2 separate regions of the Homo sapiens genome follow, and region 2 is linked to region 1. Evidence: fine-mapped expression QTL. Tissue or cell type: skeletal muscle. Region 1 holds a variant in brackets; the other region holds the start of a gene. All regions are shown on one strand. Distances are between the middles of the regions.

The links. PIP is the estimated chance that this variant, and not a neighbour inherited with it, causes the effect.
Region 2: it holds the start of IGSF10, and the variant in region 1 is fine-mapped to the expression of IGSF10 in skeletal muscle (FUSION, PIP 0.95).

What each region holds. Positions count from the first base shown.
Region 1 is chr3:151,626,760-151,635,177 of GRCh38, reverse strand. All of the region lies in intron 1 of LINC02066 (long intergenic non-protein coding RNA 2066), which reads right to left. Among named protein-coding and RNA genes, the nearest start is that of MIR5186, 65 kb to the right of the region's middle. The variant A/T (reference allele first, on the strand shown) is at 4,063.
Region 2 is chr3:151,456,720-151,464,955 of GRCh38, reverse strand. It overlaps IGSF10 (immunoglobulin superfamily member 10), which reads left to right and starts at 3,895. Exons shown (of 8, transcript NM_178822.5): 1 at 3,895-4,010; 2 at 4,609-4,695; 3 at 6,246-6,440; 4 at 7,801-7,930. The coding sequence starts at 6,247.

The DNA.
Region 1 (8,418 bases):
CTATATTTAAAACTCCTATCTCTAAACCTTCTGGCACTCCATATGCCCCATGCCCTGACTTATTTTTCTGTTTGTACTTATCACCATCTGACATACCATATGAACACCTATGTTATATATATATACACACACACACACACACACATATATACACACACAAACATATACACACACACAGAGGTATATGCATATATGTGTAAATATATATATGATATACTATATTAGATATGTGTATAATTTATTGTATGTCTCTCCTCCAAGAGGACAGGGACTTTATTGGTTTTGTTCACTACTGGATCATCAGTGTCTAAAACCAGTCCTACAGTACATAGCAGGTACTCAAAAAAATACTTGTTGAGGCTGGGTGTGGTGGCTCACACTTGTAAACCCAGCACTTTGGGAGGCCGAGGTGGCCAGATCACCTGAGGTCAGGAGTTTGAGACCAGGCTGGCCAACATGGTGAAACCCCGTCTTCACTAAAAGTACAAAAATTAGCCGGGTGTGGTGGCAGGTGCCTGTAATCCCAGCTACTCAGGATGCTGAGGCAGGAGAATTGCTTGAACCCGGGAGACGGAGGTTGCAGTGAGCCGAGATCTCACCATTGCACTCCAGCCTGGGGAACAAGAGCGAGACTTTGTCTGAAAAAAATATATATACATATATATATATATTTGTTCAATAAGTTGAATGAGTTAATGTTTTTGTATAGTTTTCAAGTTTCCTAAAACAAACATCATTTTTATAATCGGAAACAAATAGTATAAGGTTACTTTTAGTGGCATTACTTTTAATGGCAAAAACCACAATTACTTTTGCACCAACCTAATACTTTCTATATAGAAGAATTTGCCCAAATGCAACAAGTTGTTTATAGACCCAAACAACTCAGGCAGACCCCACCCACGTCCCTGGCTGAGGTATGAGTAGCTAGCAATAGCTAAACTTACTAAGCATTACTATGCTGGACACTTTATAAATTAGCTCATATAATTTTTGCAACTTTGTAAGACATAACCCCCATTTTATCTATAAAGAAACTGAGGTTCAGTTAAATAACTTTTTCAAGATCACAAAGTTTATAACTGGAATTGTGATTATGAATCCAGACAGCAGTACTGCCCTGAGATCTGGGTAAGGAGGGCCCCTGTTTGAGACTTCGTATTTTTGTATGACTTCCTCAGCATTTTCTAAGTACCCTCAGTTGCCTGAACTCAATCAGGTCTACCAATGCTGTCTGGGCATGATGTCCTGATCTTAAACCCCATTTCTTCTCTTCCAAATGCTCTGCAACCCTCTCCTCTGCACAAGATCCTGAAGAGCATCAGAACTCATGCTAATAGGCTCCAGGAGAATGGTTCAGATGCAGGTTCCAGGACAGTGGCCTGACAAGTGGATCACTCCTGCTGACTCTTGCAGTATTTCTTTCATGGGATTATGTGAGATGGGACCATCAGAATGGCTAACTTGGGTGGCTCTTACCCCAGTGAAAAGATAAGTTCTGGGCTCCAAGCTACTGAGGACCATTGCTGGTACTTGGGTTTGAGCCAGATGTGTGGTCCCATGCATCAGCTCTTGCCTATCTGTATCTCAACCCTGATGCCACATACTGTCTATAGCACCTAAGGATGGTGGGAACAGTGATCTCTCAGCTTATGTGTCCCTCACCCACTGGCACTCAAAGCAGTCATTCCACCTATCTTCAGGGTCCATACCCTGCATCCAGCAGTGCTCTGGAGAATCTGTTGCTCTGCAAAGCCAATGGACCTTTCTCATCATTGTCTTCTCTTGGCTGATTGGTACAATGATAGAGGTCTCTCCTGGGTCAGTTTTAATCCATGACAGATGAGAAATGGTCATTTCTTGTGCAAATGGGACTGCTCTTTTTGCTCTGCCCTTGGGCTCTCACATCTTCTCCCCAAGAGCGGCAGTGAATGGAAGGCACAGGTGGGAGCCACATAGAAAGGGATCACATTCTCAGAATCCATCATTACAATTTAACAAGTTAAAGAGAAAACATGGCTGGTTGTTGCATTGCTCTAGTTTATGCTCTAACATTCCAGTCTGTAAACTTAACATGAATAGCAAATGAATTATTGTTCTCCATTTTTTCTGAATACTCTGCATAAAACTTGCATTTGTAGTCATCACAAGTACATATGTGGCACTTAACTCGGCACAATAATAACCTTTGAGTGTCATTGGAAGCCAGTATTCATGGGGTCACAATGAATAATGCAGCATCACGAGTAATGGTGTAACCAGCAATTAAATAAATGATATTAGGAAACTGCAAAATCAAGATAATCTCTGTTGCTTCAACACAAACAGGTTCCAGTGAGCCATGGCATTGTCCGTAACATCATTGCTCTCTTTTCATTGTGATGAGAAAATAAACACGAAGAGATATTTTCCAGAACACAATTGGCAGAGATGGTGCCAGAACACAACAAAAAACTTTCTGAGGCCAACCTTCTATTTAATATCCAAATAAACTATCAGCACAATCTATCCAACTTTTATTTTTGTCATCAGTCACAGTTCTCTACTATATTTGTAAAAGGATGCTTTATCTTGGCATAGCTGCAGCCCATTTCTGTGTTAAGATTTTTACATTACATAGTATTATTGCTATTTTCTCACACTGTGTACCTTCCTGTGCAAATCTCCCTCCCAAACGCTGACAATCAGCAGCTTATCTTCTTGATACCTAGATTCCTACTGGCCAACACCTCTCAATTCCTCTCTCAGCTACTTTTGTTTTCCTTTGTCCTACACTGTTTACCAACCCTTTCTCTTCCTCATTTTCTCCTTCTGCAAATAAAAACCTAAAAAAGAAACAGAAATTCCTTACTTTCTATCCTCCCTAATCTAGTGTTTCTCAATGCATGATCTTCTGATGCTCTTAATTAAAATCACTAGAGGGCTTTTAAAAACACTATACAGGTTCCCAGGCCCCACCTAGATCAACTGAATCATGTCTTTGGGAATATGGCCCGGGTCACCCATGTTTAATCAATCAGGTTGATTCATTCACAGGCTAAAGCTTGAGATCACCAACTTAACCACAAGGAAAAAAGAAAAACAAAACAATAACAACAAAAAAATTGCACCACTGTTGTCAAGCTTCATGATTTATAGAGTCAAGTACAAAAGCATATTGTACAGACTGATGACACAATGTACAACTGTGCTAGATACAGTGTCGTACATATGCTGTGATGTTAGAATATGAGGTACAGGCTTGCACACATTGCCCTTCAACCTGGAACCTCTTTTGCTCACTTATCTCATTTCTATGTCTTTCAAAACCAGATTTCTCCATGAAGCCTTCCCTGGCTCCTCCTGCCTCTCCTTTCAAAAGCCAGGTTCACATGTTGTTCACACCTCTCTTTATATTAATGATCAGACTGTATTTCTCATTGTTTCTTCATGGGGCTGTCTCCTCCTTCAAAGTATGAAGTTCATCAGAGCTATCTGTTTATCTCCAACAATTTATGAATATATGTGTCCCTATGCTATATGGCAAGTGCACAATAAATAGTTGTTGAATTAATGAACTATAAAAAACTAGAAGAACAAGAACCCATCCAAGTGATTTTGCAAAGTTTAAAATGAGACACTATAAATTATCTAGGTGAGTGCTGCATTAGAAATGAAATATATTATTCAAGTTCTACTCTCAGATTTTATTGATTTCCTTATGGAAAACATGTGCTGTGTTCAAAGTCAAAGAAGCTTTAATGCAAGTCAGATCTTCCTTCGTAATCCTTTGGAAATAGCCTTTGACAATGAGGAGAGAGTGAAATGTGACTTGTCACATTATAAATAAGGCTAAAAATACACACTTGATGTCATCTAGTGTTTGGTGTTCCAAGAACCAAAACTAGTCATTGCAACATTTCAGCTTAACATCTGCTCTTTCAACCTGTTCAGCTGGTTGTTTGTAAAACATTCCAGCTTATCTCTTCAAAGTAATGTGAGTGGGAGTAGGAACCCTTTGTTGAGAACATTTTTTAAGTAAGATTCTAGAGGGCCAGTTATTTGTGGAAACCAGCTGATGGA[A/T]GGGGGCAGCTGGAGGAGCCAGAGATAGGTGAAGAGAATAATTTGATCCTCCTGTGACTTTTCCTAGTGCTGACTTCCATCTTCCCAGCTGAGAACTCCTGTGATAGCTTCCTGTCTATCCCCCCACCTCCACCACTGGCTCATTCCTCCCTGCAGTCTAGTCTCTCCCCAAGCCCCACCACAGCAGACAACTTCAGCTGAAGAACATTTTGGTTTGAACTGTCCTAAAAATGGAGACACCCCTTTCTTGGATTTCTTTAATTGATATATCATACTTGTATGTATTTGGAGTTACATGTTATATTTTGATACATGTATACAACATGCAATGATTAAATCATGGTAATTGGATATCTGTCATCTCAAACATTTATCTTTTATCTTTTCTTTGTGTTGGGAACATTACACTTCTTCTCTTTTAGCTATTTTGAAATATAAATAAGTTATTATTAACTATAATTTCCCTTCTGTACTATTAAATACTAGAACGTATTCCTTCTATCTAACTGAATTTTTGTACCCATTAACCCAATTCTAAACATTCTACAACTATAAATCACTGGCAAGGAAAAAATGATAAATCAAAACAAAACATCAGAACTTAAAAACAGCTGGATTTTCTTCCAGGTGGAGTTGATGCCCTCTGAATTTTCTTGTAAGTTGTATACTTTCTTCAGAGAAGATCAGAATATTATCCTCTAGGATTAGGGTAACCTTTTATAGGAAGAACTGACACTCTCCAAATTCTCCCTCAACCAGCTTCTTAGTGCCCCACATTCCACAATTAGATGCTCATTTGTTGGTTTAAAACTTCTGTAGCTTTGCTTGTTTACTTTTCACTCCCTCATCGTGTTTATACATCATGACCTTAACATGGATACCTCAGAGTGGAAATATTTGTCAGATCTATTTCTAAGACCAAAAGACATTGGGGAGGATGCTGTTGTGAGGGTGGGGGTTGGGGAGTAACTGGGAGTTCCAGGGCCCACTTGGGCTGCCAGGAGGGAGGGAATCACAGGACGTCTTCAGGCCTATCTCATTTTCTTCACAATTTCCCCTGCCCCGTCCTACTCAGAATGTGAAAAAGCACAGCTTTTTGCCATATGTTCTTTGATTCCCCTGGTTAGCAATAGTCCTGAAATATCAAAATGCTTTTGCTATTTAAGACCTTAATGCTCTTTAAAGACTTTTTTATTAACTGTAGCACGTAAGTCCAAGTTACGGCAAGAGACTTAAAGTTGTTCGAGGCATTGCCAGTAATTCAGGACAGGATCACAAAAGCAATAAAAATGGGAGAAAGAAAAAGATGATGATGCATTGCTGATGCAGTACCTGAGATTTTCATGTCACAGGCTGAACATAGGTACAAGTTTTCCCACAGAAATAAATTCTACCAACTGTTATGTATCCGCAGCAGAGAAGGAAGGTATGATTCAGAAATTAATTTCTATCAAATTGTTTATAGCTCTATTTTGATTATCCACACTTTCATATTTGTAATATTATGTTAACAGAAAAGTAATCGCGGTTTTTGCCATTACTTTCAATGGCAAAAACCGCGATTACTTTTGCACCAACCTAATAGCTGAAAAAGAGTTAGCAAATAAAAACCTGAAAATGTACTATGCAGCCCTTTCTAAAACCTTTCCACAGCTCATCCTTTCTTCCAGCCATTAGGTCCAGCACCAAATTCTTTCCTTCTGCCTCTCCATTACCAGGACTAGTTAGTGCTTTAATGTTCCTTATTATTCACGAATTATCTGACCAAAATAACCCAGTCATTGTTAAAATTAATTCCTCTGAAACGGTTTAAAAATACGGCACATAAAATTTAATTAGGCTAATAAATACTTGGAATATTGTTAAGATATTACAAATGAAGGATACAGGAACTTATGGTCTAGTGGGGAATTTACAGTCTAGATCAAAACTATAGCCGCCAAGGAAGAAGACAAAGCAAATGCAGCTTTGCCATTGAAGAGGCACAGAGCGCTGTTGGAGCACCAAGGAGAGAGATATTATTTCTGTCTGAAAGGAGAAGGGAAATGCTCATAAAGGAGGAAGATGGTAGCTAATTGAGATAACCACCGATTTGTGAACACCACTTCTTTGAATGATCATTATGAAAAATATCTATGAACTAGATTCTTCTCTACATAGAAGTTTGAACAAAGCATTAAATGTTGAAGGCAGGAAGTTACCTAAACTACTAAATAAAAATAATTTATTTTTGTTATACCCTGACGTCTGTTAATAACAGATAACACTTCCTTGAAAGTCAGAGTTTCAGTTAAATACTGGGTAGAGAGTGAATTAAAAAGCAATAAACAAGTAACCCTTGTATACTTACATAACATCGTCTTTAAAAAGAGTATCCAGTATCAAAGTCAAGTGCCAAGGCTAAGGGAGGCAGCCTGGTGCCCTGGAAAGGGCATACATAGGCTTTGCCTATGGAGAGACCTATGTTCAATTGCCGGCTCTACCATTTGTTAGCTCTGCATGCTTTGATTTGGGCACTTTATCTTTTTCTCAAAGTTTTCAATTCTTTTCCTATAAAAGAGAAATGTTTTTAGATCTTACTAATGCACACACCTAGAAACTTAAATTCAGTGTCTGAAAAAAAATCACGGTTTAGCCTAATAATTTTGTTAATTTATTTCATTTTCTTGAATTGTGGTGTCTGATGCCAACCTTTGGAAGGCTAAGGCGGGAGGACTGCTTGAGCCCAGGAGTTCAAGACCAGCCTGGGCAACATAGTGGGATCCTGTCTCTACAAAAAAAACAAAAAATTAGCGGGAGTGGTGGCATGTACCTGTAGTACCAGCTACTAGGGAGGCTGACGTGGGAGGATTGCTAGAGTTCAGCAGGTCGAGGCTGCAGTGAGCCGATTACAGCACTGTACTCCAGCCTGGGAGACACGAGATCTTGTCTCAAAATAAAATAAAATAAAATAATTTAAAAATTTAAACAAATCACTCTCTCCCTTTCTCTCTTCCTTGCTTCCTTATCTCCCCTCCCTACTCTCTCATTGTATTATATATGCTGCAATTCTATCCACAGGTAGACTAGCTTGTAATCCTACTTACTGAAAATTTTACTAATAAATTTCTCACATAATAATAAAAATAAGGATAATAAAGAACACCAAAGAATTAATACTATCCCCGGTAATGAAGAGACAGAAGGAAGCAATCCATGTCCCATCTGAGGGTTTGAGGAAAGAAGAGGAGGTATGGAAGCCTTCAGATGGGGCAGCAAGGTACATTTTTCACAGATCCTCTAAGGTTTTTAAGAGGACATATTTTCCCTAGAGATTCTCCAAGACACACCTGCCAAATACAAATTTCAAATTGCTCTCTATATGCTAGTGTTCCTGATTTGTATGGCTGATAATTGCCTTTTAAAGGGGCTTCATATTTAGGATCACACCTTACCTTCTCCACACCATGACGAACCTGGGGCAGTAAATATCACCACCCCATGTAGCATTTCATCAGCACACAATATCCATCCTACGCTGAGTTTTCCTTGGTGCCCAGCTAACTAGTGTTAGAGCCCAGCCTTAACTCAGATGTTGAGTAATTCCAATTGCTAGGCATTCTGACCTCAAGCTTGTGGGGTGCCCTTCCTGATCTTTCTTAATAATGACAATATCACCTACCTTGTCCCAGACAAAATGCCAAGTGCTTAGCATGCACTCTTGATTACCTGTAACCTCAATGCACATTAGGAAAGACTGTGCTTGCTTTACAGATGAAGAAATGATGAGGCTCAGATCGGTTAAGAAACTCACCTTAGATTGGGTGTGATGGCTTATGCCTGTAATCCCAGCATTTGGGGAAGCCAAGGCAGAAGGATAGCTTGAGGCCAGGAGTTTGAGGCCAGGAGTTTGAGACTAGCCCAGGCAACACAGTGAGACCCTCTACAAAAAATAAATTTAAAAAATTAGCCAGGCATGATGGTGTGCCTGTAAGTCCCATCTACTTGAGAGGCTGAGTAGGGAGGATTGCTTGAGCCCAAGAGTTTGAGGCTTCAGGGAGTCATGATCATACCACTGCACTCCAGTGAGAGAAATTTGCCTTAAATCACATCGTTAGTGAATTCCAGAAGCAAAGTGCAAACCCAGGCACATTCTACATATTTCCCAAATGTCTTTTTCAAATCAATGTCACTGCAAAATAAGAAAAAATAAAAAACTAATGTCACTGCAACCTTCCTTTCCATTGAACTTCCATTGCTTTCTGTCTGAGTCTTATTTAGAAGGAAGTCTGCAAACTTCTTCCCTTCTCCACTCACCATTTCACTGTAAGGTCTTTATGACCAATAAATGACTTGCTGTATTTTTCCTACAATGCC
Region 2 (8,236 bases), 170 kb after region 1:
GAAAGGTTAGAGATCTGGAATACTATATATAAAGTCTTCAAGTCATGTAGTTTGACTTTAGTTGGTTGAGTTGCAACTGTATTGGAAGAAAGATGATACTGATTTTCTTTCTACCTCCTTTTCCTGCATTATGTCTCTTCATGGCACTTATCACTTACCGTGCTAGTCTGTAACTTCAAAAAAGGAAGGGCTAAGATGTCAGTCTACTTCACTGCTATTGGAATCACTCAGTGGAGGTCTTGACTGTTTGGTTAATTGAATAATATGAAAATTGTGGAGCTGGGAGGTGGTAATGATTGTGCCTGATTAAAAGATATGTAACAATTTTGGCATTTGGTTATCTGTTGACACATATATAAGTCAGTTTTAAAATTCATAGCTTGTTCTGATTGTCAGGTGATCTATGACTTGTAACTGCTTGCGCTTGGTTGATTGGTGTTAAATAAATACTCTGATTAGGAGGGTGATGTAAAGGATGGTATGGATGATAAATTAAGGATGAGGAGTAAGAAGTAGTAATTACTAGAAAAGACAGCAAATAATGTCAAAGACCTAGAGATGAGGGGAAATGTAATTCTCAGGGGTGATATAAAAGGTGAAGAAGATGTATATTTATTGTCGTGTTTACTAGAAAAAATACAAAGCCTGAGAATTTACCAACAATACTGTTTAAGAAAAGAGTAACAAAAAGAGGGGGAGGATTTAAAGAAAATCATTAGGTAAAACTATAGTGAGAGGTAATTAAAATGTCAAACCATCCTTAAAGCGTAGGTAAATTACCGTAGTCCAGGAAACACAGGTTTAGGAGTTCAGATTGACAATTAACTCAGAGTCGCTATGCTCAGCTCTGAGATCTTGGCAAATTATACACTCAATTAACTTCTGCAAAATAAAGTTACAATTACAAAATAAAGTCATTATCATTGAATTTCATATATTTCTTATTAAATGAGGCCATGTTCAAAGGTGAAAGTGATTTGTAAACCATATGAATCTATAGAAACATATTGCATTATTAAGCATGGTTAGAAAAAAGAGTGGTGAAACTTTTCTTTGATATGCTGTGGACTCTCCAAATTTTATAAATAGAAGCAGGAAGAAGATAGAAAATATAAGGCTTTTTTTGTATTTTTGTAGAGACGGGGTTTCACCATGTTGACCAGGCTGGTCTCAAATTCCTGACCTCAGGTGATCCTCCCGCCTTGGCCTCCCAAAATGCTGGGATTACAGGTGTGAGCCACTGCGCCCAGCCATGGTGGCATGTGCCTGTAATCCCAGCTACTCAGGAGGCTGAGGCAGGAGAATTGCTTGAACCCAGAAAGTGGAGGTTGTGGTGAGCCGAGATTGCGCCATTGCACTCCAGCCTGGGCAACAAGAGCAAAACTCCGTCTCAGAAAAAAAAAAAAAAAAAAAAAAAAAAAAAAAAAAAAAACCAGAAAATGTAAGGCTTAAAAGCATTGGTTTTACAATTTTAAAATTAATTCAGTATTGTATTTTGGCTCTGAATCATTTAGCATTCTTTATCCTCAGCAATCTCATCTGAAAAACTGGTATAATTTTAGCACTTACTCATCAGAATATTTCTGAGAATTAAGCAATACATATAAAGGCTTTGACACATATATACTCTAACTATAAAAGTAATTACAAATATTAGAATTGTTATTAAGTGGAGCAAATGGAACTAGAATTGGTGCCAATATGACTCAGGTTTCTAATAATTCTGGAAGATGACATGAAAAGTAGAAAATACGTCAGAGAAGAGCTCTGACATAAAGCAATTGTAGAGATTTATCTCATAAAAATTCTTAAGAGAAGCAAACATTCCTATCAGGAGTTCACTTTGAAATTGATAGCAAGAAAATGACCCCAGGTAACAAGCCTAGGAAAATAAGTTTAACATGTTGCTGTCATCTTTCTGTGGTTCATCCTAGTTGAGGTCTGGAAGTCCAGACCTGGGTTAGAAATTGACTAAAGAATACGAAGCCATGAGGTTGGTCACCAAGGAGCTTTGGGAGAAAGATAAACTGTGGCTGCCAAAACCCGACAAATATGCCACATTTCCAAAGCAAGCATCCAAGTTTGGACATCACGTGAATTTTTAATTTAAAAGAATCTTGTCAGCTCTGCAGAGCTAAAGACCATGTTCATATACATGCTTCTAGGGTTACTTCTAACTCTGAGTCTCTGATTCTATAATTCTACTTTGGTAACTGACTTATTACTAACCATAAATCACATGAATGCTCGGCATGGGATATGGCACATTATCCATGTTTAGCTAAGTGAGGCAGCCACAACTTTATGGTTAAACGTTCAGACCATAGGGCAAGACTGCCTGAGTTTGAATTAACGGCTTTTCTACTCACAAGCCACATGGCCTGGAGTTCTGTCACTTTCCTTCATGTACCTTACTTGTAAAATGGGAATAACATAAATACTTTCCTTTTAGGCTTTTTGGTGCTATGGTGAGGCTGAAATGAGTTGGTATTTGTAAAACATTTTTCAGAAGTTATTTCACTAAACCAGCAATTCTCACATTGTAGCTGCATCAGAATCATATGGAAGGCTTGTTAACACATGGACTCCTAAGCCTCCTTCGTACAGTTTCTGAATCAGTGGGTCTGGGATGGATCCCGCAAATTTTTGATCTTAACGAAGTCCAAAGTAATGCTGATGCTGGACCCGTGACCCTATCTTGAGATCCACTGCCCTAAAACATTCATTGCAAATTGTCATCAAAAGCTTAAGTGCTATGTAACTACGTGGAAGGAAACAAGGTCATTTTAGTTATGTTAACTCAGTGTTTATGAGTATTGGGAGCCCCACCAAGAATTGCAGGAGATATTACATGTGGGCAAGTTGGTAGAGGTGATTCTGGAGGCATCTCTGCCTCCAGATGGTAGGGTTGGAGATGAGAAAGGAGAATGTAATCCAAGCAGAAATAGTAGTATTTAAATCCGGTTCTGTGATAATGATTTAAAAGAATTCCTCTGAGACATCTATATACGATGTAATATTGTTTGGCAGTTAAAAAACAAAAGGGAAATATTGCCATTTGTCACACATGGATGAACCTGGAGGACATTATGCCAAGTGAAATAAGCCAGAAACCAAAAGAAAAATAGTGTATGATCTCACTTATATATGTGAAATCTTTTTCTAAAAGGTCGATTATACAGAGATAGAGAATTAAATAGTGGTTATAGGGGTTGGAGAAAGGAAATGGAAAAATGTAGATCAGAGAATACACAGTAGCATACATTTATATAGATCTAATGTGCAAGAGGACTATAGTTAATAAAATTGTATGGTATTTGGGATTCTTGCTAAAAGAGTAGATTTTAGCTGCTCGTGTCACAAAAACAAAAATGGGGTAACTATGTGAGATGATGGATATGTTGTTTCACTATAGTAACCATTTTACTATCTGTATATAGCCCATAACATGTTGTATACCTTAAATATACGCAATATAATTTACTTATTTTTAAAAGAGGGGTTTAAATAAAACATTGACACTGCAGGTATCACAGGTCATTAACGCTAACTTAGCCTTCAAATAGAACTTTGGGAGCCACAGGACCAAGGACAGCCTGCGGCGATTTACGTAAACCCTTAAACCAAAAGGCCCACCTGTCAACAGGTGGAAGAGGTCAAGGAGGAAATGAACGGGCGGCCACTGAAACTGCTCTGCCACCCAGCCAGGACCTGCCAACTTGCTAGGAGAAAGCCCTGGGAATTTAAAGAGTGAAGCCACGGCGAATTAGCTTCCCACACGCTCGTAAACATAAAGAGGGGCCCGGTGGTCGTTTCTCATCCTTGTGCTGCTGAGCCCCGGCCGCGTCCCCAGACACAGAAGTCGGGCTCATCCCCCGCCCTCGCTCCGCCTTCCTTCCTTCCCTCCCAGAGCTCCGGACCAGCTCCGCACGACCCCAGCAGCTGAGCCCGGGACCGAGCCCGGGACCTAGCCCGGGCAGCTCGAGCCCATTGGTCACCAGGGCAAACAGGTGAGCGCCTCGGCCAATCCTTCCCCGGAAAGGGCTGGAACCCCACGCCGGCTGGGGCTTGGCGTGGGAATGGAGCGAGTACCGTGGCTGCAGAAGCGGGCGCTGGGGCGGGGAGGGCTGAGGGTGGGGGAGGGAAGACGCACCCGGAGAAGGTGGGGGCATGAAAGCACACGACAATTCTTCGGTGACTGGTGCCAGGCAAAAAAAAAAAACACACACTGAGGAAAGACAATCAATAGATGGAGACATCTGTGACAGATTTGTCCAAAAAAGACAATTTGAGGAGAAGCTCTTGGGACTTTGGAGCAAAATGGAGTGATTAGTAGTAGTTAATATTCAAGTGATAACTTTAAGGAGTATTAAGTACACTACTGAGGGAGGAGAAAGGAAATTTAAAAACCTCCACTTAGCCTTTTGTTTCTGCAACAGCAAGCATCATAATAAAAGAACGCTTCTGGGTTAATGTGGTTATGAGTTATAGAACTTTGAAGCTGTGGAAGCGGCTCCAGGTCTCCCTGAAGAGCATTACTCCTGGCTGTAAGCCAAAAAGAATAAGGCTTTTTGCTCACTTTGGAGCAGAGAACTTTTCCTCCCTCAGGTTTGGACACAATTTTCCATTTCCTGGGAAGATTTTCTGTCTCTGCCTATGTCACAAGAGGACTCAGGACCTGAAAGAAGAGCTCAGGTATTGCCAATTCCTATTTCATTATGTACATTTTCAGCCTTACGTTTGTGAGAATCCCTTATTCATGTGTTGTCTTATGCTATTGATCCTCTTTTAAATAATTTGAACGTGGGCATACCCAGAACTTTTATTTAAGCTGAACGAGAGAATTACCTTCATCCTGCTGTTCCTTCCTTTGTTTATCTAATGATAAGGTGGAAATGCTGTCTCCAATCATACAAAGCTTATTTAAAATTATTGTAACCAGGTGGTTACGATGGCAAAAGTGGTCATATGATTAATCCTATCTTAAATTTTAATTTGGACTAAATTATAATAATACATCCATCATCTTTTTATCTGTATGAAAATCCAAGCAGTTCAGCCCCAGTGTTATTTCTCAGTGTAGTTTGTAGCTAAAGGGTGGTTGCTGGTGGAATCCAACATCATGCTGTTCCACAGAACGGTGGGATTTATTACAAATTATGAAGGTCATTTTGCTTGGAAAAGCACAATAAAGAGTTTATTTCAATCCTGCATTTCAGGAGAGAATTAGGTTTGAATTCCTGGGCTTGCCCCACATATGGGTAACAGATACCATTTTTTTTTTTCTGACAAGCTGAGCATATTTCTTCCCTGGTTATGCTCCCCACCTCCTGTGGCAGCCATGAGCTGGAGGAGGGACCAAGGAAAAAGGCAGAGAGATGTCCGAAGCTGAGCAAAAGCAGACAGCATCATGCCTGCACAGGGTCAGCATGGCTCAAGCCCTCTCAGCTGGTCAGTCGCTGTTGCTTATGGTCATTACTTGGCAGTGAAGTGTTCAATGTGTCTTTTTTTTTGGCAGGGACTTGAAAACCGGTTAGAAAGAGATTTATTCTCCCTTCCAGTGGATTATTACAACCTTTAAAAAATGTTTCTGAAGAAGGTTTAATAAAATGAAAAAACATTATATATGAAATGATAAAATGTGTTACAAAATTGAGTTTGATCACATGTACACATATACACGTAAATGTATGTACACCTATACATATACACACAATAGATGAAAAAGGCTGGAAAGGAATACAACAACATGTTTAAGGATTATATAAGTGGTGAGATTGAGTAATTTTTTTCCTTTTTACTGCTTAATTACAGTTTCCAAATGTTTTATTATGCACAGATATTACTGTTATAATCAGTTTCTTGAAAGTTACTCTAAAAGAATTAATGTATATAAAGGAAACTAAATTCTATATATTTTAGTTGTCACAATCTTTCTTATGGTTTCCAGTTTCCCTTTTAATGAATGCCTGAGTAATAGGGATTGCTGGTTTTCATAAAGAAGTGAGAAGCTGTGAAGAAATTTTCACAACAGTAAATATCCCACTTGATCATAAAGCGCAGTGTGAGGCCAGCAGCACACACTATAGTTTTGTAAAGAGTGCATATGACCACAAAGGGTAGGAATGGAATTGACCACTTACGACCCTTAAAGAAGGTCTCCCAGATTCCCAGAGTGAGTGTGTGGTGGTCCTGGGACTTTGCTCCACCACTCTTTATAACTCTGAGGTATGATGTTTTTTCAGGATGAAGGTAAAAGGCAGAGGAATCACCTGCTTGCTGGTCTCCTTTGCTGTGATCTGCCTGGTCGCCACCCCTGGGGGCAAGGCCTGTCCTCGCCGCTGTGCCTGTTATATGCCTACGGAGGTACACTGCACATTTCGGTACCTGACTTCCATCCCAGACAGCATCCCGCCCAATGTGGAACGCATCAATTTAGGGTGTGTGAGACCTCATGTTTCCTCTTCTCAAAGAGGGATCAGTCGCAGCAGTGACTTGTCCCTCAAACATCTATGACTTTGGGAGATGAATCTCAATTGTTTTAACAATATTTCTTTTCTGAAATGAGCTCATGAGAATTTTGTTTGTTGGGGGCAATAAGAAAACTTTTCCTGGTAAACTTTTATTAGGAGAAAGTTCTTCTAGAATTTGAAGTCCCTCTTGGTAGGTTGGGAGACTCATGACGGTAAAAAGCTTCTTTCTGGCTACATTTTTGCTGGAAAATGATATAGTTTCTGTTAACTATTGGGGTTATGATCATTCATCATAAGAGATGACAGGGTAACTGGAAGTGTCTGCCTATATAATACACACACACACACACATACATACATATATATATATATGTATCCTTTTTATAGGCCCTTTGGTTTCTTTCCATACAAACTTATTTAAAATGGATGCCTAATTAAATTTTTAAAAATATGACTGTATTTTAAACGTTCATGAAAAAAAAGTCTGTGTGTGTCTGAATACACATGTTGGACTTAGCATCGTTTATTTGACATTAGTGAGCATGTACTATGCACTGGGGATACAATGGTAAGATATACTATTCACTTCTAGGATGTGTATTGATCGTTAAAAAGACCAGACAAATGTACGGTCAGTACAATTAATAAAAACTAATAGAGCATACAAAGTGTTTTAGAGACAGTCACTAATATTAAGAGCTAACATTAAGGTTGTGCTCAGTAGGTGCTGGCATTGGGTTAAGCACTGCATCCATTTAATCCTCATAACCCCTTTGGAGTGAGTTCTATTATTTACATTTTATAGATGAGGAAACTGAGGCACAGAAAGCCTGCTGATTTTACCCAGGGTTGTACCACTACTCTGTTGAGCCTGAGCTCGTAATCATACCCAAACGAGACGCCCAAGCCTGGCCTCCAGAGCCCAGGCTTCTTAACCACTGCTGACGAATTCCACCTGGGGGAGTGGTGAGGAGATAGTGTCATGAAAGAATGGGCTAGATATTAAGTGTTCACAAATAGAAAAAGGTGAGGTCAAGGGCATTCCAACCTGAGGGAACAGCATATATATAAAAGTTTGAAAATGATAAGAAATGTGACAAGTTCCCAGAATATGAGGGGGGTGATTGTAACTGAAATGGCAAGAACTGGGTAGAGAGCCGACCTTCTGTGGCATCTGGTGAATTTCAGTTTTTGAAGCATTTGATTGTCTCAATAGAGTACAGTTATAAAGAGAGGTATTGAGTTTTCTTGTGTTTATTTTGGTTATGACATTTGAACTTTAGTTGACAGACTTAGCTTATGCCTAGAATGTCATTTTTTATTTCAGATACAACAGCTTGGTTAGATTGATGGAAACAGATTTTTCTGGCCTGACCAAACTGGAGTTACTCATGCTTCACAGCAATGGCATTCACACAATCCCTGACAAGACCTTCTCAGATTTGCAGGCCTTGCAGGTGAGACTGATGGAGAGAGGGGGCAGGTTAAAGAGGTAAGGTGGGACCTGTGAGATAGACCTTCAAAGGCTGCCTATCTCTACACAATACGAAAATCAACATTCTGTAAATTAGAAGCAGACGTCAATGGAGAATGTTAACTGATTTTTAACTGTGGAACTGTGTGTATAAATTAGAATAATAAGAACTCTGAGGCAAGTTTTCTACTACCTCAAGCTAATAGAAAAAAAATCAATACCCAGAGACGATAAACCTTCAAAATTTAATCCTAAAAGGACACTTCTAGTCATGTTTATCTGGGAATTG